Linked DNA regions of Homo sapiens. The protein of the gene in region 4 purifies or fractionates together with the protein of the main gene of each other region. This does not show direct contact. Each region holds a gene or a part of one and is shown on either strand. Other genes may lie near its edges.

Region 1 (3,500 bases), on a different chromosome or scaffold from region 4:
CGTTCCCACCGGGCTTGGGGCTGAGACCACGGACCCCTTCCAGGCAGGGGGTGTCCCCTGAGCCCTTCCCTGTGTGCGCAGTTACGGTGGAGCTGCAGGGGACGTTTCCTCACCAGGGGCCGATGCCCTGGTACATCCATTCGACAGAGGAAAGCAAAGCCCAGAGCGGCTCCGTGTCCTACAGCTGGGTTCAGCTACAGGATCAGAAAACCCTCAAGACAGCAGCTTAATCCACAGAGAAGTTTACTTTTTCATACAGCAAAGGAGACCAGATGGGCAGCCTAGGGAAACAGCAGTTAGTTTCCGGCTCCTTTGACCTCTATTCCCACCATTTTCAGGGTCCCAGACAGAAAAGGGGTGCTCTTCCTCTTAAGGATGCTCCCCGAATTGAACCCCACGCTCTGCTGGTATCTGGAGGCCGGGACCTAGTGGTTGTGGCAGCTCCTGGCTGCAGGGCAGGCTCCTGTCCCCATGGAGCACGTGCCCACACCACACGCCCAGTGTGGGGAGAACGCACAGGGGACTTGGGATGTCGGGCAAGGTTTGACCCAGATTTGCCGGCCAGTGCATGGTCCCGGGTCCTCTGACAGATGTCCGGTGATGACAGATGCCATCGGGGGCCCTGTGTCACCACAGCACTGGGGTCTTAGTCCCAAGGGAGACCGTGACCTTGGTCCTCCAGAGCGCTCCAGGTGTCTCTGTGCAGGCCCAGAAATTGGAGCTGTCCTGACTGAGGGATGGGAGGGCTTCTCTGGCCCCACCTCCTTCCCGCCCGCCACACCTGCACTCCTACACATCCGCTTTGAGGAGTCACGGGGACCCCCCACATCCGGGTGTTTGTGTGGGCTGGACCCCGCACCCCTATGGACCCATCCCGCCTTGTGCTGCAGCTTGGATGACACTTGTCGGAAAACACCAGATTCCTCACTGGGGTCCCTGTCCCCGGTGGCCCCAGCGAGCCCCAGCAGAGGGGGAGGGGGCTGCCCTGAATGAGCTCACGCAGCTGAAGATGGGCAAGTCCTGGCTCAGAGAGCTGCTGGGTCTCCTGGGAGTGTCCCAGCCCAGGACCAAGGCAAGGGTCAGCGAGTGGCCTTCCACGAGGACAGCCTGGCCAGTGGCCTGGGCCCTGACCTAGAACCGCCTCCCAGCTGCCTGAGCCAGGTGCTGGTGGGATTGGGGGCTTAGGCACATTGAGGGGCCTTTTGCTTCGATTTACTTTGGACTTTTTTTTTTATTTTTTGAGACAAGGTCTCGCTCTGTTGCCCAGGTTGGTCTTAAACCCCTGAGCTCAAGTGATCCGTCTGCCTCAGCCTCCCAAAGTGCTGGGGTCACAGGCATGAGCCACCGTGCCCGGCCCCACCCATTTTGGATTCTTCCCCCCCTCCCCCCCACCCCCTAGTCATCCCCATCACAGCCACTGTTGGTGGAGGTCCTGCCCTGGCCCGATGGTGCCCCGGGTGTCTCCGCCTCATAGAATGTAAGCCTGCACACCCTTCCACAAGAGCCTGGGAGGTCAAATGCTTTGCCCGAGGCCATAGCTGGGAAGAAGGGAAATGGGATCCAAATCCCCGTCAGGCCCAGAGCCTGAGTGTGGGAGCAGCCCAGGTGCCTGGGGGCTGAGCTCAGGCGGTCTGAGGAGGCTGGGTTCCTGCAGACCCCAGAGGGGTCTCTTACGGGGCTTCGCTCGAGGCCAGTGGACTCCAGTCTGAGGGCTCCTGAAAAAGACTGAGGCAGCACCTGGGCTTTCCCTCAGCAGGAGCCCACTGCTCCGATGCCACCAGAAGGGCCCAGTCTGGGCTCAGCCTCACTTAGTTTTGGGTGCTGGGCTGCTCCCTGGGCCTCCTGCCTTGCTGGGCAAAGCTGGCACAAGTCACCCGCCTGGCAGTGGCCAGCAGGGCTCCCTGAGCTCCAGGCTTCCGGCAACCTTGGCTTTGCCCCTGCTCCCCGGGGAGGCAAGGAGTCCAGGACCTGGATTTGGGGTCCGTGTGACTGTGTCCTGGTCTGGCACAGCGACACCTGCCCCAGGCTTTGAGGAAAGGACAGGGCAGCCCCTCGTCCGCCTGTGGTTGGTGGGAGGGGAGTTTGAGTGAGGCAGGGTGTTTGGCACAGGACAGGGACTGGGCTGGGCAAGCTGGTGGGGGAAGCCTGGGGACAGTGGCTGCTCTGAGCTTCCTGCTGGGGGAGGCCGGAGCAAGCTCCCAGCCCTGCTGAGGGGTTGAGGGGACTGCGGAGCCCGGGGGAGGGAGGGAGCCTCAGGATGAGCTCCTAGAGTCCTACTGGGGGCCCGCGCCGCCCCAGCACGACTCTGCCAGCTCCGAAGCAGGGTTCCGAGGGGGGCTCAGGCCTGTTCTGGCTTCCCTGCTGTGTGGCCTTGGGGAAGTCACTTAACTTTGCTGAACCTTGAACCTCGCATTCCTCATCTGAAGAGGGGGGTTATGATCGTACCTACCCTGGGGGGTTACTGTCAGAACAAAAGGAGGTGACTCATGTAGAGCCCTTGTCTCGAGGCTTTGCACACAGGAGGTGCAGGGGGCCTCTGTGCTTAGAAGGCGATTTTTCTCTGCTTGGGTTCCCGGGGGTGTCCTCGGCCGCAGGAGCCTCTGCAGGGCTTAGTTCAGTCCCTTCCTCTCTGAGGAAACACTTTTTTTGTGTGTGTGAGATGAAGTCTTGCTCTGTCACCCAGGCTGGAGTACAATGGCACCATCTCGGCTCAACGCAACCTCCTCCTCCCTGGTTCGGGTGATTCTCCCGCCTCAGCCTCCCGAGTAGCTGGGATTACAGGCAGCTGCCACCACGTCTGGCTGATTTTTGTATTGTTAATAGAGACGGGATTTCACCATGGTGGCCAGGCTGGTCTTGAACTCCTGACCTCAGGTGATCTGCCCGCCTTGGCCTCCCAAAGTCCTGGGATTACAGGCGTGAGCCACCCGCCCATCCAGGAACCGCTTGTAAAGTGAGTCTAGACTTTCCCACCAGCTTTCAGAAAGCTCTGAACTATGTACGGGACACCGCGGGGGAAGTGCGGTGGCCTCACGTGGCTGGTGCAGATGGCCCTTTGTCCCCTTGAGGACATCAACTTCAACTTTCTTCCACCCCCAGGGTATACCTTTCTCCCCCAGCCACACTGTGGGCTGCAGAGTTCTAGAGAGCCACAGCCTCCCGCTGGCCTGGGGCAGCCTCCGTCCGTCCATCTGTCTGGCCTGAGGACCAGGGGCCGGTGGTGGGCGGCGGGACACAGCGCCTGCTCAGCACCGCCTGCTGGGCGGGGGTTTGTACCCCGTGTCTTTCACAGCTGAGAGAAGTATCAGTGCACGATCCAACCCCTAAGCAGCTTAGATTAAAAAAAAAAAAAAAAGGAAAAGTTTTGGAGCTAGAGGGTGGTGCTGGCCACACGGCAGTGAATGCGCCGAGTGCCACGGAACCGTGTGCTGAGAAATGGGTACAATTATATTGTTTAGGTGGTGCGTGTTATACCACAATCAAAACAGAGGAGGGCTCGG
Region 2 (3,500 bases), on a different chromosome or scaffold from region 4:
AAACAAAACACACCACCACCAACAAAACCCTGCAAGTACGGTGATTTAGTGTTTGTTGTGCCACCTGGGAGTGTTGTACTGAAAACAGTAACTGATTTAAAGAAACTGAGTATGTAACATATGCAGTGACCCACAGAGGCCAGTTTAAAGGGTGCATATGGAGAAACTTCATATCTGGTGCAATAGTGAAAAGGTGTGGAAGCAAATTTATTACAGGGGTATGTGATGAAGGGGCAAAGTGGAGTCACAGGCTTGAGTTTGGTCTGTGTCAGCACTTCATTACACGGAAGTCAGAATAGTCCCCACACCCTCATACACACCCTCATTTCATAACCATTGGGGCGAGGGGGTGCGGTAGACCTACTTTGGAGTGTATGGGTCTCTGAGGTGAGTCATACAGCCAAAGAGGAACTGAACTAGTGGATCCAGTGGCCGTGGGAATAGCTGGGTTGCTGGTTTGTCCTTTGTTTTGAAAGTTAGGGTTGTGGGTGCAAGTGCGGTGGCATGTGAGCTTTTCCCTTTCTCTCTTTCCTTGGTGAATGGCTCTTCTTCCCCAAGGGTTGAGCCGCCAGCTCCCAGAACAATGTCAGTATGGAGGGTGTTTCCTGAACCCGCAGGGCAAGACTTCTCCCTCCATAGAAGATAGCTGGTGTAAACTGAAGTTCTCTTTGATTTTCCTGTCTTCTTCCATCCTTAGATTTAGACTACTCTGTAAAGTTACAGGATACAGTGTTGATCTAGCTAGGTCTGAATTGAGATGCGGGCTCATGTCTCACTCTTTATGGAAAACGGTTCTTGGGAATATTATTTCATTGAAACTTGGGAAATGTCCATTGAGTACATTTCTAGATGTGTCAGGAGTCTAGAAACTTCAGTTTGGAGAATAAAACTCTACTTCCCTCACATCATTGTTCATACTGTTTTGGTTTTTATTATAATCTTCTTTATGGATATAATTCATATGCCATAAAATTCACCCCTTTAAAGTATATAATTTAGTGGGTTTTAGTGTTTTTATAGGTTGTGCATACACTAAATGTGATGGTTATCACCATTGTGTAATTCGGAACATTTCATCACCCCAAAAAGAGAGTCACTCCCTACTCTTCCCTCCCCACAGCCCTAGGCAACTACTAATTTACCTTCTGTCCCTATAGATTTGCCTATTCTGGACATTTTATACAAAGATAATTATATAATATGTGATCTTTTGTGTCTGGCTTCTTAGCATAATGTTTTCAAAGTTTGTTTATGTTGTATCATGTATCAGTAGTGCCGCATCCCTTTTTATGGCTGAATCTTCCCTTGTATGGATGTACCACAGCTTGTTTATCACTCATCAGTTGATGGATATTGGGATTGTTTTCACTTTTTGGTTGTTAGGTATAATGCTGCTGTGAACATTCAGGTGTAAGTTCTTGTGTGAACATACATTCAGTTTCCATGGGTGTATGGAAGTGTATTCCTGCATCAGTTCACACTGTTTTGAGGTTACTTGGGTTTGAGCCACTCCAGAAACAGGAATGGAATAAATGACATCAAGATTCCTTTGTGCTAATGGAGCCAATGCCAGTAGTCCCTCCAGCCCCAGTCAAAGGCACAGAAACTGGTTTTGTTTGTTTGTTATTATTATTTGAGACAGGGTCTCACTCTGTCATCCAGGCTGGAGTGCAGTGGCACGATCATAGTTCACTGCAGCCTCCACCTCCCGGGCTCAGGCGATCATCTTGCCTTAGCCTTCTGAGTAGCTGGGACTACAGGCACGCACCACATCCACCTAATTTTTTAATTATATTTTTCTTAGAGACAGGGTCTTGCTATGTTGCCCAGGCTAGCCTTGAACTCCTGGCCTCAAGCAATCCTCCCGTCTTGACCTCCCAAAGTGCTGGGATTACAGGTGTGAGTCACTGTGCCCAGCAAAAACTGTTTTTAATGGTGAAATAGCGTGCTAATCAGGTTGGATGATAGAGTCCTGGAACAGAAGGCCAGAGGCCTGAACTGTGCCATCAGTCTTGTGTGCAGGAAGTTGCTGTCTCCTCTGGACCCCATGTACAGGAGGACATGAGCTGACTGAAGAAGGAACGCTGGAGCAGGAGCCAGCAGCCTGGGCTTGGTCCCAGCGCTGCCACTGATGCATTGTGTGGCCTGGGGCAAATTACTTTGGCTTCATTAGTCTGTTTTCCACATATGTCATGTGTGAAATTAAGGTTTGTACTTGATGATTTCCAAATTCTGAGTTGAAAATTTTGTAGTTTGGAATACTTTAAGGTGAGTTTTGCTAATATGCCTATAAAATCAGACTTATTTTGTTTTTTCCATGATGATGGTCACTGTGATCTTTCCAAGCTGTTGTGTTGGTTGTATTGTCTGTCTGATCACCCAGGTTTCCCCACCTGGCTCATGTTCTGCAGGAGCTACTGTGTCCTTGGAGCTGAGGTGCTGACATCGGGCCTTGGTTAAATGTGTTTCTCTGAGGGGTCCCTTTAAAGGAATGCCCTTAATCCCCCTCAGGAAGTACAGAGGAGGTTGGGATCACATTAAGTTGCCTCTTAGTTTCTGTTTTACAACTTGGACAAACGTCTCCCTTTGATCTTGGCATTAAAGAAGCACGTCAGAGAATGTTGGAGAAGGCTGAGTTTTGATCTCTGGGCACTGGCAAAAAGGTGGGAAGGACCCAGGATGAGAAGAGCCATCTGGCCACGGATGAATAATAGGAGCCACTACCACCTTCAAGCCTGCTTTGATCCCTGAACCATTTGCTGACACTAGAGTTTCCCAAATGGGGCATGGATGGGGACACCCAGGACTTCTCAGTTCCATCTCATTCCTTTTCATTGCTTCCTTCTCTCCCTTCCTAACATGGTTTCTCACCTATGCCTGATGCTTTAAACCAACAGACCTCCCAGGGTTTGAAATCCTCTTATGCTTGGTCTGAGAATCTGGGCTAGACTCCCAGCTCTGACACTGTGATTACTTTTGTGACTTTGGACTGATTGGTTATGTGATTTTGGGAAAACCGTTTGCGCTTTTAAGCCTCAATTACCTTATATTAAAATTTTTTATTGTGGTAATAACAAAACCTACCACTTTAAGCTTTTTTTTTTTTTTTTTTTTTTTTGAGACAGAGTCTCACTCTGTCGCCCAGGGTGGAGTGCAATGGTGCGATCTCAGCTCAGTGCATTACTGCAACCTCTGTCTCCTGGGTTCGAGCGATTCTCCTGCCTCATCTTCCCAAGTAGCTGGGACTACAGGCATGTGCCACCACGCCTGGCTAATTTTTGTATTTTTAGTAAGGATAGGGTTTCGCCATGTTGGCCAGGCTGGTCTCGAACTCCTGACCTTGGGTGATCCACCTGCCTCAGCCTCCCAAAGTGCTGGTATTACAGGCATGAGCCACCATGCCTGGCCCACTTTAAGCATTTTTAAGTGTGCAGTTCAGTGGCATTAAGTACGTTTACACATATGCAGCTGTTAGCACTATCCGTCTCCAGAACTTTTTC
Region 3 (3,500 bases), on a different chromosome or scaffold from region 4:
GGGTGAGTGAGCATTACCGCCTGAGCTCCACCTCCTGTCAGATCAGCAGTAGCAATATATTCTCATAGAACTCTATTGTTAACTGCGCATGTGAGGGATCTGGGTTGCGTGGTCCTTATGAAAATTTAATGCCTGGTGATCTGAGGTGGAATAGTTTCGTTCTGAAACCAATCACACACGCGCTCATGCACACACACACACAGGCACAATTTTTCCAATCATGGAAAAATTGTCTTCCACAAAACCAGTCCCTGGTGCCCAAAAGGTTGGAGATCACTGCAATAGGTGATGTTGGGACAACCAGCTATCCATGTGGGAGAAAAATGAAATTGAAAACCTATTTCAGTCCAAAACCCCAAATCAATTATGAATAAATGAATGCCAATGAAACAGTGCCCAATCTTATTAATAACCAGGGAAATGCAAATTAAAATGAGATACCACTTTAAATTATTAAACAAAAATTAAGACCTTTGACAATAAAAAAGTTGGAAAGGGTGTGAAGCAGCAGAAAATCTCTTACATTGCTGGTAGGTATGTAGATCATACAATCACTTTGGAAAAGAGTTCTATATTACCTAGTAAAATTTGAAATGTATGTATATCTATGAATCAACAAATCCAATACTGGATAAACTTTCAAAGGTACACCAAGAAACTGATTAAAAATTTTCATAGCAGCACTGTCTTACTTGTTTACTCACATATAAACAAGTAAAAATGAAGAAAACAGTTACATATAACACAAGAATGACTCTTAGGAAAATTTTTTAGTAAAAGGGGATTTTCAAAAATAGGTTAAACTAAACAATATAATGTTTGGCAATAATACATATGTGGGAAAATTAATTCTTTTAATCAAATGAATGGCATTCAATATAGTGGTTACCACTGGGGTTGTGACAGTGAAAGAACGTATTTGTGGTTTCATGATTTTTAAAAGATATTTATATTCTTATTGAGAGTTTCTCTCTAGATAAGTATTTCTTTTGGGTCTTAAAAACTTCTATGATCCACAAGGGAAATGCCACTAAAGTAGGCACATTCTGTAAGTTACTGGTAGATTTACACTTCTCACTTTTCATAATTTTCTCCCTTTTCATAACTGAGTAATCAGTACAATTCCCTACTTGATTTGTAATAGTCTTTTACAGGATAATCATTTAATGGGGAGATGTTTATTTTTAATAACTGAAAAAGTAGGAGCCCATATAATTCCAAAGTGGTCTTAAATGGATTCTATCCTTTGATTTGCAGTAGTTTTACTTATCTTACTAATTGCTTAGAATAATATTAAATGACTTATTTAGAATGTTAAAGGTAGTTTGCATTCTCTGAATATGAATACCCACTAATTAATGTAGAAAAGCAAATTAATCACAAGGAAAAAAAAACAAGCTTGAATAAAAACTATTCATTCAATAAAAGCTTGGAAAGATCTGAGAGCCCAACAATGAAAAAGGAGTTTGTGGTCACTATAGAAAATAACTTACCTTTAATGGTAAAGAGTTAAAAATCTAGTGACAGTAATATTTGAATGAGACAAAGCCATGTAAAATTTAGTAGCTACAAATAAGATAAATCCTACCTGAGAAAGGTACATCTCTAAGAACAGTAGGAGCCCAGCCCCTCCAAAGGGAAATCCAACCATCTTCAGATACTTTCTTGCTGACAAATCGATGCAGTTCCACGTAAGAAAACTTCTTGGACTGCATCTTGGTTCTAATCAATTCTAGTGGACTTATCACAGTTACTGCACCAACTAATACAAACAAGTTAAAAAAAAGAAAACAAAAATAAAGCCATGTACTATGCAAACACATATACTGTAAAAATTAATATTCACAGATTTTATATTTTAAACTTTTAGTCTATAATGTCTGAAAACCTTAAAATTAAATGTGTCATGATGTCAACATAATTGCCACAGATTTTTCCCTTGACAAAGTATTTCTTAAAAATCTATTTTCATATACTTTACTTTTTCTGGTTTCAACTCTCTCAAGGGCAGTTCCAGAAATGTTATAATCAACCAGAACTATGAAAACCAAAGCCCATTCCAGTTACTGCCCCAATAAATCCCACTCCCATTTAGCAGAGTAAACGTTCTTCTGTATAGAGTCAACGTTCCTTATGATAAAACTCTGAATCCCAAAGTTTATAAGGAAAGTGATTCAGGACTTTGGCCTGAATCACGCATGATCCCAGATGACACCTCAGAAGTTCAGGTAAATCAGAACCAACTCTGATGTCACTCTAAAAACTCTGTCCATGATTTGACCAAAATAGGCTGAGCCCATCTCATTCTGATGGTAATCACCATTCCATATGACTTCTGGAGTACCTATACTATATTAACAAATTAATATAAACTATAATGCAAAATATATCATACTAATACTCTATATATTATACAAATTATCTGTGAATGTCACAACTTAAACAGAAGCTCTAAACAGAAATCAAAATGAAAATAAAGATTTATTACTCACATCTGGCTACAATTCCAGCAACAATTGGTATGCAGGTTTCATTTTCTCCTAACTTAGATCTCAGAAGAGCACTTAATTGATCATAGCAGGTAAAATAAATAACTGTGGCAGGAACTGCCATCACTCTGTTAGATCACACAAAAAGATTTGTTCAAAATTATCAAAAGATCCCACATAGTCTTAACTTAAATTCAAATATTATTATATAAGCTAAAAAAGTCTTATATTTTGTGTAAGCTAAAAACTACAATAAATCAGCCTATGAGATCAATTTTTCTTTTAGTTTAAAAATGATTAGTACTTAACTTAGTAGGCAGTAAAAAGATATAAAGTAGGCATTTGCCATCCAAAAGTTTTCATTCCAGTTGTAAAGACAGTTACAATAAATAGCATTAAGTAAGCGCTAGCATGGTGGCACATGCCTGTAATCCCAGCTACTCAGGTAGCTGAGGAACAAGAATCACTTGAACCTGGCAGGCAGAGGTTGCAATGAGCCGAGATCGTGCCACTGCACTCCAGCCTATTTAGGGACAGAGCAAGACTGTCTCTAAATAAATAAATAAATAAAATAAAAATAAAACAAATAGGAAAAGACAAATTAAGACAGACACTTCATCTCCATCTCTGTTTCTGGTCTCCCAGATCTTCTTTCTCATTCATAATTACCATAACATCAGAATCAGCGAAATAAAAAGTACGTGAGAAATTGTAAAACATTTTTGTACTGTGGACCATATATCACTCCTGCTTATAACTAGACATAAATTATAATTAACATCATCAGAATTACATACACTAATTTTAAGGGAATTCTAATGACATACTATTTTAAAAGAAATTATTAAAAGGGAATTATTAAATTCAAACACAAAGTTGCAGGTACTGCCATGTCAATAAATATTAGTGCAACAAGAAACTAGTCCATGTTTATGATGTAACTAAAGGACATTCACAGACTATAAATTGGAATGCCTAATGTTATATGGTGGACTTTGCTGCTGAGAATTT
Region 4 (4,209 bases):
TTTGTCCCAACAGAAGTCCCTGATCTCCAGGATCCCTGACTGGCTGTGCAGAGCTGGCACAGCCACACTCCACGGGCTTCCAGCCCTTCAGGCCCAGCTCTCCCGGAGAGCACCAGAGTCCCTTTGCTCCATTTACTTGCGCTCTTCAGCCAGCAAGTGTTTCCTAATGTCTCACCCCCAGTCCCAGCTTTCCTGCTGCAATTTCCGCCTGTTCCCTCCCATTTCAGGCCTTAAGGGAGTGTGGCTGGGCTTCTCTCCTCCCCCTCACTCCAAAGCCGCACTTGATACAAGGTGGAAATCAAAGCACCACTTCTGGCTTCCCAGCCTTGAACTTGCCCTTCCCTCTCAATGTATCTGGTTTCCTCAGCTTCCCTGTGCAGCAAGAGTGTCACTCCCCTCTTGCTTTTCCCAAGCTCCCCATGCGCCCCTCTCAGCAGATCTGTCTTAGAGGGGCCAGGTGCAGAGAAAGGCAGAAATCCTAATAATGTTCCCAGCGATCGCTGCCTGTCGCGGAGTGCTGAAGGGCCAAGTGTTGATCTGAGTCCTCATCACACGGGACTTCATTTAGTCTCACGATAGGTGAGTACAACTATGGGCCCCATTTGACAGATGAGGAAACTAAGGCAAGGGAACTTTAGTCATTTGCCCAAGTTCACTGGCTTTTTTAAAAAAGGATCCAGACAGCTCTGATTCCAGCGCCAGCTCATGCCTCTTCATCATGGGGGAGGAAAGAGAGGGAGCCATTTGTTGGGGCAAACCCCCACCCATCAAGGGCCATGCACTGGGGTATATGCCGCCATATGTGTTATCCTGTGATATTCCCCACCACGACCTTAATTAGAGGTGGTTTTTCTTGTTCCCATTTTAACACAGGCAAAAACCGAGGCCCAGTAGTACCTTACCCATGGTCACATCCCCAGAGCCATTTGTCCCTCATAGTTCAGAACTTGACTCAGAAAGCAGTTGAGAAAAGTGTGGAATGACCCCAGATTCAGGAAGGCAAGTCTGGCCTTAGAAACTGAAAGGCCCATCAGGTGATGGGATGGGGGAGTGAAGATCCTCAGGCCCCAAACACCTGCCACTGCCACCATCACACACGGAAGTGTGGAGGGAGCCTGGTGTGCTGTCAGCTGGCTGGCCAGTCCAGGGGCTTAAATGTAAATGCATCAGCTGAGGCGGGAAGTCGGGAGGGGTAAGTCAATCATTATTATTCATTAACTGGAATGCATTTCTCAGATTACTCCGAGCTGGAGTAGGGAAACTGCCACCTAGGTGGCAGGGGGAGAGGGGAACTGGGTGGGAGGGGGAGGCAGGCCTCCCAGTTGCTGCAGTTTGGAATATGTCAGGTCCCACCCTCCCAGAGGCGGGGCCAGGGCTGAGTCCTGCCAGCCTCATTTCTCTATCCCTCTGAGAACCCAGACGGGCAGAGCCTGGGTAGGAGAGCCTGGCCCCGCTGTCCCCACTGGGTGGAGACACCATGCACTTGGTCCACTTGTGCTCTTCAGCCAGGACACCAGACATGGTCCAAACCGCTGCAGGGCTGGCTGCAGCAACTCCCTGACACTCAGGAAGGCCCAGGCTGGGCAGGCAATACCTGCTCCCAACAGCCATGTGAGTAGCTACTCCCCCAAACCCCCAAACCCCAGATCCTGGAGAGGCTACTACACCCAGCCCAAGCCACCAGACCCTCGGGGGTGTGCAGGTGGTACAGCCTGCACCCTGCTGGGAAATCACCCCTGGGGGCTGCTCCCTGCCTTTGTCGCTGTTCTAGTGGAGGTGGGTTGGGGGGAATCATTCCGATTAGGGCTGGGAGCTCCAGCTCAGGCCAGGTTTGGGGTAATGGACCCTGAGTCTCACGGGACTTAAGAGAGTTGATGATGCCCTGGGAAAGGGAACAGAAACTGCAAGGCCTCTAGAGAGGAAAAGACATCCTGGGTGGAGGGCACTGGAAGAGATTGAGAAAGAGAAAACATGCTTAGGGGAGGGGAAAGGGGGCATAAGGCCTTGGAGGCCCAGGCTCAGGGTGCTGGGGGAACCTGGGAAGGAAGGGGAGCATCTTCCTTCCTCTCAGCTCAGGGCAGCCATGGGGCCCTGATCCCCTGTCCTGGAGGAGGGGAGAGGTATGAATCCTTTCCTTATTGACTTGGATCCTAGCAACAGCAGCTGCTCCCCTGTTGACAGAAGCAGGAGTTCCCACAGGACCCAGGACCCCTCCCCCTGTCCCCAGGATGTGGCAGCAGAGCCATGACACTGGAGGACTGAGACCAGGGAATGACGGGAAGGACAGGGACAGATGAGAGCCACAGAGAAGCCAGACTCTGCCCAGACTCCTCTTCCCTCTCCTCTGGGCTCAGCCTCAGGCCTGGGGGTGTGGGGGAGTCCCTCTCCTTGCTGCTGGCATCTCCACGTTCACTGCCACACGTGCCCTCCAGCTGCTTCTCTCCTCCCTCCAGCTCCCAGGAAGGACCCTGTTGCTAGTGTGGAGCAAAGACGAGTCAAGTTTATGGGCTGGAAGTCCTACCCGGAGGCTGCTCACTGAGCTGTGATGGCTACAAGGACAGATGGGGGGAAGGGTGCAGGGTGCCCGAGACCTGGCCCGCTGGAGCCTGTCACCTAATGGCTGGCTGGAAGACCACTACACACCAGCCAGCCCTGGTCCATTCTCTCATTTAGAGGCCTCCCCGGTGGAGGCAGGGATACACAAAATGCTTTGGGGCTGGATGGGCCCGCCTTTCAGTCTAAACAAGAGACCTCAACACAGCTGCCCAGAAAAGGCAGATACCAGAAATGGATAAAGCTGGCTGGGTGGGGACTGTCCGAAGGGCAGCCAGCAGTGAGCTCCGGCTGGTTGCTACCACACAGGACATATGTGTTGCCAGACCTGAATTTTCAATAGAAACCAAAGATAGTTTTTTATATAAATGTTTAATTGGCAATTAATTGAAAAATTCTGTGTATCAGCGAACATGATACAGCCCACAGCCTGCGGGTCTGCGCCCCTGGATTAACATGCTGCCCTGCCAGGAGGACACGACCTGCAGCCCCATCCTAACTCTGGCCACCCCATCCTGCAGGCATGCCGGCTGCCGCTCCAGGACTCCCCTGTCCCCAGGACCAAGATGACGCCCAACAGCACTGGCGAGGTGCCCAGCCCCATTCCCAAGGGGGCTTTGGGGCTCTCCCTGGCCCTGGCAAGCCTCATCATCACCGCGAACCTGCTCCTAGCCCTGGGCATCGCCTGGGACCGCCGCCTGCGCAGCCCACCTGCTGGCTGCTTCTTCCTGAGCCTACTGCTGGCTGGGCTGCTCACGGGTCTGGCATTGCCCACATTGCCAGGGCTGTGGAACCAGAGTCGCCGGGGTTACTGGTCCTGCCTCCTCGTCTACTTGGCTCCCAACTTCTCCTTCCTCTCCCTGCTTGCCAACCTCTTGCTGGTGCACGGGGAGCGCTACATGGCAGTCCTGAGGCCACTCCAGCCCCCTGGGAGCATTCGGCTGGCCCTGCTCCTCACCTGGGCTGGTCCCCTGCTCTTTGCCAGTCTGCCCGCTCTGGGGTGGAACCACTGGACCCCTGGTGCCAACTGCAGCTCCCAGGCTATCTTCCCAGCCCCCTACCTGTACCTCGAAGTCTATGGGCTCCTGCTGCCCGCCGTGGGTGCTGCTGCCTTCCTCTCTGTCCGCGTGCTGGCCACTGCCCACCGCCAGCTGCAGGACATCTGCCGGCTGGAGCGGGCAGTGTGCCGCGATGAGCCCTCCGCCCTGGCCCGGGCCCTTACCTGGAGGCAGGCAAGGGCACAGGCTGGAGCCATGCTGCTCTTCGGGCTGTGCTGGGGGCCCTACGTGGCCACACTGCTCCTCTCAGTCCTGGCCTATGAGCAGCGCCCGCCACTGGGGCCTGGGACACTGTTGTCCCTCCTCTCCCTAGGAAGTGCCAGTGCAGCGGCAGTGCCCGTAGCCATGGGGCTGGGCGATCAGCGCTACACAGCCCCCTGGAGGGCAGCCGCCCAAAGGTGCCTGCAGGGGCTGTGGGGAAGAGCCTCCCGGGACAGTCCCGGCCCCAGCATTGCCTACCACCCAAGCAGCCAAAGCAGTGTCGACCTGGACTTGAACTAAAGGAAGGGCCTCTGCTGACTCCTACCAGAGCATCCGTCCAGCTCAGCCATCCAGCCTGTCTCTACCGGGCCCCACTTCTCTGGATCAGAGACCCTGC
Region 5 (3,500 bases), on a different chromosome or scaffold from region 4:
ACATGAATTTTTGGAGTATACTGTTCAACCCAGTACAGAGGGTTCCAAATTCAATTTATGTTTTCATATTTAAACCAGTCACACTTACTAGATTTATCTGATTTATATAAAGCAAACAGGTAAGATATATTTTATGTAAAAACTTATTCTTATTTGCAGTTATATTGACATATATGCCTTCCCACTGCATGGGCCTAGGTATCTAGTATTTTCCACTCATGTAGCACAGATTGCGTTAAAGGACTATTTGGTGATGAGACATCTATTAATACAGATGGAGAGCCAGAAAACTGTCCACATTACCTCTTAATAGCCCACTATTTATAGAACCAAGCTAGACTTTTCTTGAGTTTTAACTGCTGTTCACTTTAGAATAATACTTGAAATGTTCTTACTTATTTTATATCCACAACACCTAACCATGCCTGATGCTGATTTATTGAATGAAGATTGTATTAATGAAAGAATGTTGTGCATGTGTGTGTGTGTTTGTGTGTTTGTATGTCCGTGTGTCTCCATTGGAGGGTTGTCAACAGGGGCATATGGGGAGTTTTCATTTGGTTAGTATATTCTCTGTCCTTTTTAAAAACATAACTAGGCTGGGCGCGGTGGCTCAGGCCTGTAGTCTCAGCACGTTGGGAGGCCGAGGTGGGCGGATCACCTGAGGTTGGGAGTTGAAGACCAGCCTGACCAACATGGAGAAACCCCGTCTCTACTAAAAATACAAGATTAGCCGGGCGTGGTGGCGCATGCCTGTAATCCCAGCTACTTGGGAGGCTGAGGCAGGAGAATCGCTTGAACCTGGGAGTCGGAGGTTGCGGTGAGCTGAGATCACGCCATTGCACTCCAGCCTGGGCAACAAGAGCGAAACTCCGTCTCAAAAACAAAAAAACCAAACAAACAAAAAACACAACTAGTGGCATCCATCATCCTATTCTACACTTTGCTTTTATTACTTAAAGTATATCATTTCATCTTAGTACATAAGTGCTATGTTTGCATAATATTCCATTGCATAGATATAATTTATTTAGGTAGTCTCCCTTAAAAATGTTTTTAATTGTGGTAAAATACGCTAACATAAAATTCACCATCTTAATTTTTCAAGTGTACAGTTCAGTCTTGTTAAGTATATTCACATTGTTGTGGAACCGATATCTAAAACTTTTCCATCTTGTAAAACTGAAACACTGTACTCATTAAACAACAATTTCCCCCTCCCCCAGCCCCTGGCAACCACCATTTCTATGAATTTGAGTTAGCTTCTCTTTCTAGTTGTTTTCATCTTTGCTTTTACAATCAAAGCTGCAGTGAGTAGCCTTGTGTACATGTCATTTTGCACATAAATGAGTATATCTGTAGGATGCATTTCTAGAAGTAGAATTCCTAGGTAAAAAGGTTTGTGCATTTATTAATTTTGAAATATAGTGCAAAATTGGCTTCTAAACAGGTCTCCCTATCCCTATTTCATCCTGAGCTTTTACACACAGGTGGCTTGAATTCTTTCCTTGCAGCAGTGAGTGAGATAAGGTTAGGGTAAAGAATACTAATGTAGAATTGGCCTTTGATAATTCATATCAAAAAATGCTAGAAGATTCTTTGCAGAATTCTGATGTTTGAAAACTGAGGCTTGACATAAATTTACTGTAAAATGAGGTGGCCGAGTGCAGTGGCTCATGTCTGTAATGTCAATACTTTGAGAGGCTGAAGCCGGTGGATTGCTTGAGCCCAGGAGTTTGAGATCAGCCTGGGCAACATGGCAAAACCCTGTGTCTACAAAAAAAATACAAAAGTTAGCTGGACTTGGTGACATGCACCTGTATAGTCCCAGCTACTTGGGAGGCTGAGGTAGGAGGGTCACTGAGCCCAGGGAGCTTGAAGCTGCAGTGAGCCATTGTGATTGCACCATTGCACTCCAGCCAAGGTAACAGAGCAAGATCCTGTCTCAAAAAAGTTAAAAATAAATATAAAATGAAATGAGGCATAACTACATAGAAATACCACTGTTTCCCTTAGAATGTACGTATAGATTTTGGCGCAGTGACTTTTCATCTGATAACTTCAAATAATTTGGCATTTGTATTAGTTTTATTATTTTAAGGTGAAAGTATGCATTATTATGTCTGAATGTTTTCTTATAAAATAGAATCTGAAGGGTTGGGAACCACCTCTCATTGATGATCGGTATTAACAGTTTGAAATTTATTTTTCTAGACGTTTTTCAGTGCATTGAACAACACATGGATGGTATTCCTGCTTTAAAAAGATGGGATCATGCTATATTTACTGTTTTGTGATTTGCTTTGTTAGTTGATAATACATCTTTTTTGGGTTAGTGAATAAGAGATATCCTCCATTATTTTAACGGGTTTATACTCTCCTATTACATCATAATTTTCTTGTCCATTCCCTTGTTGGTGAACATTTAAGTTGTGATAAACATTCTTTATACATATATCTTTGCTTATTTGAACAAGTTTCTGTAGGATAAATTCTAGGAAATAGAACTTCTAGATCAAAGGTATGACCATAGCTGGGCACAGTGGCTCACGCCTGTAATCTCAGCACTTTGGGAGGCCAAGGCAGGTGGATCACTTGAGGTCAAGAGTTTGAGACCAGCCTGGCCAATATGGTGAAACCCCATCTCTACTAAAAATACAAAAATCAGCTGGGCGTGGTGGTGTGCACCTGTAATCCCAGCTACTTGGGAGGCTGAGGCAGGAGAATTGCTTGAACCCGGGAGGTAGAGGTTGCAGTGAGCCAAGATCGCACCACTACACTCCAGCCTGGGTGACAGAGCTAGACTCTGTCTCAAATATAAATAAATAAATAAATAAATAAATAAATAAATAAATAAATAATGATAATTTTATATTTTAATGTATATTTGGGGGCTCTATAAAAGTTATATTAACATTCTGATTTGCACAGGAAATAAACTTAGTTCTAAACTTTCGGATGTTTTAGCTAGGTGACATATCATCATTAATATACATCATTTTTTCTAATATAAGGTTTGTGATAATATAAAAATCTTTAAAATGACAGCTTTGAAACTTTTTTGTTCTTACAGTGATGGAATGGGGAGAAGATATTAAAGCAGTTTCAAAAGATGAAGCAGTGATGTTGGTGAATCATCAGGCAACAGGAGATGTGTGCACACTGATGATGTGCCTCCAGGACAAAGGACTGGTAAGCTACCCTGAAGGCAGTAGATAGACATCCAGAAAGGAAGGTTAAAAAGGAATCCATTTGGCCGGGCATGGTGGCTCATGTCTGTAATCCCAGCACTTTGGGAGGCTGAGGTGGGTGGATCATGAGGTCAAGAGATCGAGGCCATCCAGGACAACAGGGTGAAACCCCATCTCTACTAAAAATACAGAAATTAGCTGGGCGTGGTGGTGTGCACCTGTAGTCCCAGTTACTCGGGAGGCTGAGGCAAGAGAATTGCTTGAACCCGGGAGGCAGAAATTGCAGTGAGCCGAGATCACGCCACTGTA
Region 6 (3,500 bases), on a different chromosome or scaffold from region 4:
CATTAGGCCGGGCGCGGTGGCTCATGCCTGTAATCTCAGCACTTTTGGAGGCCGAGGTGGGCTGATCACAAGGTCAGGAGTTTGCAACCAGTCTGGCCAACATAGTGAAACCCCGTCTGTACTAAAAATACAAAAAAATTGCCAGGTATGGTAGCGTACGCCTGTAGTCCCAGCTACTTGGGAGGCTGAGGAAGGAGAATCACGTGAACCAAGGAAGTGGAAGTTGCAGCAAGCCGAGATCGTGCCACTGCACTCCAGCCTGGGCAACAGTGGAGACTCCGTCTCAAAAAAGGAAAAAAAAATGAACATTAGGGGTCAGGTGCGGTGGCTCGCACCTGTAATCCCAGCACTTTGGGAGGCTGAGGCGGGCAGATCACCCGAGGTCAGGAGTTCAAGACCAGCTTGGCCAACATGGTGAAACCCCGAATCTACTAAAAATACAAAAATTAGCCGGGCATGGTGGCAGGCACCTGTAATCCCAGCTACTCGGAGGCTGAGGCAGAAGAATCGCTTGTACCCGGCAGGTGGAAGTTGCATTAAGCTGAGATTGCGCCATTGCACTCCAGCCTGGGTGGCAAGAGTGAAACTCACACACACACACACAAATTTAGTGCTTTTTTTTTTTTTTTTTTTTTTGAGACAGAGTCTCACTGTCACCCAGGCTGGAGTGCAGTGGCGTGATCACAGCTCACTGTAGCCTCCACCTCTCCAGGCTCAGGGGAACCTTTCACTCCAGCCTCCTGAGTAGCTTGGGACTACAGGTGCACCACCATGCCCTACTAATTTTTGTATTTTTTGTGGAGACAAGGGTTTTGCCATGTTGCCCAGGCTGGTCTTGAACTCCTGTGTTCAAGCAATCCTTCCACCTCGGCCTCCCAAAGTGCTAGAATTAGAGGTGTGAGCCATTGTGCCTGGCAAACATTAATGTCACTTAACATCTAGTCAGTGTTGAGATTTCCCCAGTCTCCTAAATTTTTAAAGCAGTTTGTTCAAATCGGGGTTCCAATAAGTTTTATCCCCTGCAGTTGATGAATACACCTCCTACATTTCTTGTCTACATGTTCCCCCTCATTTTTTCTTCCCACTCTGTTTTTTCGGAGAATCCAGGTCATTTGTCCTGTAGAATTTCCCAGGCTAGATTTTGCAGATTGCTTAGGTAGAGTTCACATATTCTACTCTTCCTGGTATTTCCTATGAATTGGTAGTTAGATCTGGCAGCTAGAATCATTTCTGGGGGTTCGGGGACACGTATCCTTCACAGGGGTTCCTCTGTCCTTCTGTGACAAGTTGCGTAGCATTGGTTCTCTATTTTTGTGTCGTTAACGTGCCGTGGTGATATTGTCCAAAACTAAGCGAATGATTACTTCCCCTACATATGTATTTGGTTCCCATGATATATAGTTGGAATAGGAGAGGCAGAAAAAATACTTGATTCTTTCCACTTATTTACCATTTTTCAAAATAATGAGGTGGTTCTGTAGCCTCCCACAGAGGTAGGTGACTGAAATTTCCTTTTTTAGACTTTAAAAATATTTGTTTCCATTGAAGTTATTTGTCTTATTGTTACTTAAAAGTTCCCATCTTTGCTCAGTTGGGAGCTTATCAAGTTGGTGCCTTTTGATGTGACCCCCAGTAGTCTTTGATAGATTCCTTGCTTTGGCTATGAAAAAAAATGTTCCTGGCTACTCTTTTGTATTTCTTTTTGTTTAGTTGTTTTGTTTGAGACAGAGTCTTGCACTCTTGTCCAGGCTGGAGTGCAGTGGCATGATCTCTGCTCACTGCAACCTCTGCCTCCAGGGTTCAAGCTATTCTCCTGCCTCAGCCTCCCTAGTAGCTGGGACTACAGGTGTTTGCCACCATGCCTGGTTAATTTTTGTATTTTTAGTAGAGATGGGGTTTTACCGTGTTGGCGGGGCTGGTTTCAAACTACTGATCTCAGGTGATCCGCTTGCCTTGGCCTCCCAAAGTGCTGGGATTACAGGCATGAGCCACCATGCCCGGCCCCTTTTGTGTATTTCTTGTTCCATACTTAGAATTAACTAACTTTCTAAGGAACCTTAGGGGGTAGTGGTATTTACAGAGCACAGTGTAGGTTTTGTCACCGGCTTCTGAGTAATCTTTTCCTGCTGTTGATAACTCAGGTAGATACTTTCTTTTCTCCCAGGAGTCCATGAAGAATATCAGCTGCCATATTACGACTTAGTGCCCTCTGACCCTTCCATTGAGGAAATGCGAAAGGTTGTATGTGATCAGAAGCTGCGTCCCAACATCCCCAACTGGTGGCAGAGTTATGAGGTAAGAAGCTGGCCTCCTGCGGCTTTCCCATCAGCCTGATTTCTCCACCTTAGAAAAGGGTTTCTTGACAATGGGGTCAGGCCCCAGAGGAGCCCCCTGAGAGTGTCAGTTATTATTTACTATTACGTGCTATTTTACATATCCCAAGCCCTTTAGGGCTACAGTCTCTTGTCCTGGACCCTGTAGGGTGCCATTTGGAGTTCACAGCCTAGAAGAAGAAAAGGCTTTGGGCCTGGTGTGGTGGCATAGGCCTGTAATCGTAGCGCTTTGAGAGGCTGAGGCAGGAAGATAGCTTGAGCTCAGAAGTTCGAGACAAACCTGGGCAATGTGGGGAGACCCCATCTCTACAAGAAATAAAAAATTAGGCTTGGTGGCACACCACCTGTAGTCCCAGGTACTTGGGAGGCTGAGGTGGGAGGATTGCTTGAGCCTAGGAGGTCAAGGCTGCAGTGAGCCATGATTGGGCCACTGCGTTTCAGCCTGGGCAACAGAGCAAGACCCTGTCTCATAAAAGAAAAAGGACAAGGCTTTGTCTCCAAGACACAGATGAGGGAGGTGGTCAACAAGTGACAACTGAACCCAGAGCTGTTAGACACCAAACTAGGAAAGCAGCTCTGGAGCCCGAGCTGAGCTGAGCTCCATGGAAGAGTGAGGAGGAGGTGTCCATAAGAGAAGCCCTGAGACCAGACAGAGGAGGAGGACATGCCTGTGAGGAAAGTGGTCTTTCCAGAAACTCAGAAGGGAGGAGGTGATGTGTATGACAGGGCTGGGATTGGGATGGAGAATGTGAATTTGGGAGAGACGGCAGATGAAATCAGGGGTGTGGGGGAAACAACATTTGGTGGAAAGAGTTGACATGAGGACATGTTTGTGACATACGTACTAATAAACATGGAATTCTAGGGTCTTAAGAGTGTTCAGGGGAACAGGCTTCGCCTAGCTAAGTGCTCATGGGCCTCCTTTTCACTTGCGGTTCTGCATTTCCTTTTACTTATTTTTTTCCCAACTCTATCGAGGTGTGATTGACAAATGAAATTGTAACAAAGGTGTACAAAGTGCTGAATTGATACATGTATGTATTGTGACATGATTACCACACAAGTTAGTGAACACATCTGTCACCTCACCTTGTTGCTTGTGTGTGTAGTGAGAGCAGTTGAGACCTACTGTTAGCACATTTCAGGTGTACAGTATTGTTGACTCTA
Region 7 (3,500 bases), on a different chromosome or scaffold from region 4:
TAATGGATAAGAGATTTTTCTTGGTTAATTTTTAGTATTAAAATGGCTAAATCTTTTTTGGGATATTCTGACTAGTATGGTGCATTGTCTAATAGATTTCCCATAGCTGAGAGCTAATCATCTTGTAATCTGTGGAAAACTGTCCTCTTTGGCTAAAACTTTATTGTAATTCCTCTAAATCCTCAGCTTTTATTTTCTACAGACTTTTTTTTTTTTTTAACATTTCCTTCCTCTGACTCACTCCTTTTGTTCTCATTTTCATGGCCTGAGAACATGGGTGATGATAGAATTATTCTTTTCACAGATTAACAGTTTTCTTTTCGAGTATCGTTGAGCTCATGTGTGTATTAACTAGAGAAGTCTCCCTTACATTTCATTTTTATGTTTTCTTTCTCATCAGGAGATAGTTTGTAGCCATTTACTTTCAAATCCAAGTTTCTGCGGTTCTTAAGACCTGTATCATTTGTCTCCTGAATTTCACTTCATTTCCTCTTTAAACCATGTCCTCTGTTTCCCATCTTCTGCACCCACTTTGCCACTTCCTGTTTGTTTAATTGGCAAGGGCCACTCTCTGTGTTGGAAATTTTTTCTTTTTGAAAGCTCAACTAACAACTTCTAGGAAGTTTTTTATTGCTACTGTTATCAATTCATACCATCTTACCCTTGTTTTTGCAACCCTTTGTTAATAACATATTTATTTAACTATAGTTATTAGCAGTCTGAGATCATTTTACTTGGTTACATAAGGAGCACATATATCTACCCAGCATCATTGTAAGGCATGTGAGACCTTTGTTTGATTGCTGTCCTAACCTAGTACCGAGTCCTAAAAACTCATTAGTAGAAGATGAAGTGTCCTTGCCTTTTGCTGAACATATATATACACACTGAATATTTAGTGGCAATTCATAGTTGCATTTGGCCATTTTTTGTTTATAATTTCCCCTTTCTCATTAAAAAAACTTTGTTTTCTAGACTTTAGGATTTAGAGAAGCTCATTTTGTTCCATACACATGCTGCTGTTGGATTATTTAGGTATTTTGTGACTGTATTTTATCTTTGAAATAAAAAGCCTTTCAAGAAATGCAAAAAAAAAAAGCTCAAAAAACAGAAAATGTATATTTTTTAAATATCTCAGATAGATTTAAAGAAATTTTAAACATCCTAATCATAGGACTTTTTTTTTTTTTTTTTTTTTTTTTTTTTTGGAGACGGAGTCTCGCTGTCGCCCAGGCTGGAGTGCAGTGGCGCAATCTCGGTTCACTGCAGGCTCCGCCCCCTGGGGTTCACGCCATTCTCCTGCCTCAGCCTCCCGAGTAGCTGGGACTACAGGCGCCCGCCACCTCGCCCGGCTAATTTTTTGTATTTTTAGTAGAGACGGGGTTTCACCGTGTTAGCCAGGATGGTCTCGATCTCCTGACCTCGTGATCCGCCCGCCTCGGCCTCCCAAAGTGCTGGGATTACAGGCGTGAGCCACCGCGCCCGGCCATCATAGTACTTTTGAAGCCCATTCATAGTACAACCTGTGAAGAGCCTCATGTACGCGCTAACTGGGTCCTGTCTCTGCAGTTGACTGGATTGTTGCTGACATCTTGGCCATCAGGCAGAATGCGCTAGGACATGTGCGCTACGTGCTGAAAGAAGGGTTAAAATGGCTGCCATTGTATGGGTGTTACTTTGCTCAGGTAACTTGTTTCCATGCTTTTCTCTCTATATATGTAGTTTATAAATTTTTTTTTTTTTTTTTGGAGACAGTCTCACTTTATTGCTCAGGCTGAGTGCAGTGGTGTGAACACAGCTCACTGCAGCCTTGACCTCTGGGGCTCAAGTGAACCTCCTGCCTCTGCCTCCCAAGTAGTTGGGACCGTAGGTGCCCACCATCATGCCCGGCTAAATTTTCTATTTTTTGTAGAGATGGGGGTCTCGCTGTGTTGCCCAGGCTGGTCTTGGACTCAAGCAATCTGCCTGTCTCAGCCTACCAAAATGCTGGATTATAGGTGTGAACTGCCATACCCAACCCTATAAAAATGTTATATTTTAAAATTTAACAATATACTTCATGTGAATGTATGGTTTTTAAAATGGGTTTAATAGTTTATTCTCAGTTGAAGTAATTTTGTTTGGCATTTTTAGTGGTGTGTATTTATATACGTCTGATTATCCATATGCGGTTTTCCTTCAGCATCTGTGGGGATTGGTTTTAGAACCACCACAGATACCAAAATCTAAGGTGTTCAAGACCCTCATATAGAATGGGATAGTATTTGCATATAACCTGTGCACTACTTTAAATCATCTCTAGATTACTTATAATATCTAATACATTATAAATGCCATGTAAATGGTTGTTATACTTTATTTTTTATTTGTATTATTTTAATTGTTATATTATTTTTAATTTTTATTTGTTCACATATTTTTGATCTGTGATTTGTTGAATCTGCAGATGTGGAACTCATGGATGTGAAGGGCCAGCTGCAGTAAAATGAAAGAGCAAAAATGCAAATGTACAAAGTTCAAACAAATAGGAAATTTAAAGGCATAGAATTTGATAGGCAATTACATTAAACTGTTGATAACAGTAATTAGTGATCTGTATGATATTAAAAAAAAAAAGCAAACTGTATATATAAAACTTACTTTCTCCAGTTCTGGAGGCTAGACATCCAAGATCAAGGTGTTGACAGGGTTAGTTTCTCCCAAGGCCTCTCTCCCAGGCTTGCAGACAGCATCCTTCTTCCTGTGTCCTCAGGTGGTTTTTTTCCCTGTGCCCAAGCACCGCTGGCACTGCTTCCTCTTCTTAGAAGGACTAGTTACACTGGATGACTAATCCTTCTACAGAGACTGCTAAGGTCCCACTCTGAGGCCCTTTTTTAACCTTAATTACCACCTCTAAGTCCCTCTCTCTGAATACAGTCACAGTGGGAACTATTAGGGCTTTAGTAGACTGATTTGGGGGAACACACTTCTGTCCGTAACAGTGCCACATAAATATCTTTAGCAGGATTGATTTTTTAAAATCCCTAAAGATCGTGAGACATGTTAAGGACGCTTTTTAGTGACTCTGTAATAAGTGGGTGGAAGAATTGGGAGTTAAATCCATCTGATGGATCAGGTTTTTTATTTTTAAAAATGTGTATTTAAGAAAGAAAGCATTTTCATTTTAACTGCCAACAAAACTAAACTTCATGTGTTTTCCAATACAGTGTCACATGCAGTTTTTTTGAATTATGTTGAGACAAGGCAATTTTCAGCTAAATGTTCTTTAGAAGCTAATGTTTGAAGATATTAAATATAGATTAAATTCTGAAATGTAGTTTTCATTCTGTACTTTTTGCAAGAGAAGTTGCCTTTTTGATGACTCTGGCCAATTGTTATTTTAAAAGTAAATGCTCTTTCTCCCGATTTGATTGTGGCAGCATGGAGGAATCTATGTAAAGCGCAGTGCCAAATTTAACGAGAAAGAGATGCGAAACAAGTTGCAGAGCTACGTGGACGCA

Evidence for each region.
Region 1: the proteins of GPBAR1 (region 4) and AGPAT2 purify together in Homo sapiens (affinity purification with mass spectrometry; one large-scale study listed by BioGRID and IntAct). This does not show direct contact.
Region 2: the proteins of GPBAR1 (region 4) and TM9SF4 purify together in Homo sapiens (affinity purification with mass spectrometry; one large-scale study listed by BioGRID and IntAct). This does not show direct contact.
Region 3: the proteins of GPBAR1 (region 4) and SLC25A40 purify together in Homo sapiens (affinity purification with mass spectrometry; one large-scale study listed by BioGRID and IntAct). This does not show direct contact.
Region 5: the proteins of GPBAR1 (region 4) and LPGAT1 purify together in Homo sapiens (affinity purification with mass spectrometry; one large-scale study listed by BioGRID and IntAct). This does not show direct contact.
Region 6: the proteins of GPBAR1 (region 4) and ACVR1B purify together in Homo sapiens (affinity purification with mass spectrometry; one large-scale study listed by BioGRID and IntAct). This does not show direct contact.
Region 7: the proteins of GPBAR1 (region 4) and AGPAT5 purify together in Homo sapiens (affinity purification with mass spectrometry; one large-scale study listed by BioGRID and IntAct). This does not show direct contact.

Annotation. Positions count from the first base shown.
Region 1 is NC_000009.12:136,680,958-136,684,457, reverse strand, and holds part of AGPAT2 (1-acyl-sn-glycerol-3-phosphate acyltransferase beta), read left to right. Parts: intron 1-3,500. UniProt on the Homo sapiens protein: Converts 1-acyl-sn-glycerol-3-phosphate (lysophosphatidic acid or LPA) into 1,2-diacyl-sn-glycerol-3-phosphate (phosphatidic acid or PA) by incorporating an acyl moiety at the sn-2 position of the glycerol backbone.
Region 2 is NC_000020.11:32,112,714-32,116,213, forward strand, and holds part of TM9SF4 (transmembrane 9 superfamily member 4 isoform 1 precursor), read left to right. Parts: intron 1-3,500. UniProt on the Homo sapiens protein: Associates with proteins harboring glycine-rich transmembrane domains and ensures their efficient localization to the cell surface.
Region 3 is NC_000007.14:87,845,361-87,848,860, forward strand, and holds part of SLC25A40 (mitochondrial glutathione transporter SLC25A40), read right to left. Parts: intron 2,618-3,500; coding exon 2,493-2,617; intron 1,763-2,492; coding exon 1,589-1,762; intron 1-1,588. UniProt on the Homo sapiens protein: Probable mitochondrial transporter required for glutathione import into mitochondria. Glutathione, which plays key roles in oxidative metabolism, is produced exclusively in the cytosol and is imported in many organelles.
Region 4 is NC_000002.12:218,259,606-218,263,814, forward strand, and holds the start of GPBAR1 (G-protein coupled bile acid receptor 1), read left to right. Parts: upstream 1-1,409; 5' UTR 1,410-1,611; intron 1,612-2,453; exon of another isoform or gene 2,454-3,074; 5' UTR 3,075-3,119; coding exon 3,120-4,112; 3' UTR 4,113-4,209. UniProt on the Homo sapiens protein: Receptor for bile acid. Bile acid-binding induces its internalization, activation of extracellular signal-regulated kinase and intracellular cAMP production. May be involved in the suppression of macrophage functions by bile acids.
Region 5 is NC_000001.11:211,792,764-211,796,263, reverse strand, and holds part of LPGAT1 (acyl-CoA:lysophosphatidylglycerol acyltransferase 1), read left to right. Parts: intron 1-3,073; coding exon 3,074-3,192; intron 3,193-3,500. UniProt on the Homo sapiens protein: Lysophospholipid acyltransferase involved in fatty acyl chain remodeling of glycerophospholipids in the endoplasmic reticulum membrane.
Region 6 is NC_000012.12:51,989,699-51,993,198, forward strand, and holds part of ACVR1B (activin receptor type-1B isoform a precursor), read left to right. Parts: intron 1-2,164; coding exon 2,165-2,295; intron 2,296-3,500. UniProt on the Homo sapiens protein: Transmembrane serine/threonine kinase activin type-1 receptor forming an activin receptor complex with activin receptor type-2 (ACVR2A or ACVR2B).
Region 7 is NC_000008.11:6,729,142-6,732,641, forward strand, and holds part of AGPAT5 (1-acyl-sn-glycerol-3-phosphate acyltransferase epsilon), read left to right. Parts: intron 1-1,569; coding exon 1,570-1,685; intron 1,686-3,419; coding exon 3,420-3,500. UniProt on the Homo sapiens protein: Converts 1-acyl-sn-glycerol-3-phosphate (lysophosphatidic acid or LPA) into 1,2-diacyl-sn-glycerol-3-phosphate (phosphatidic acid or PA) by incorporating an acyl moiety at the sn-2 position of the glycerol backbone.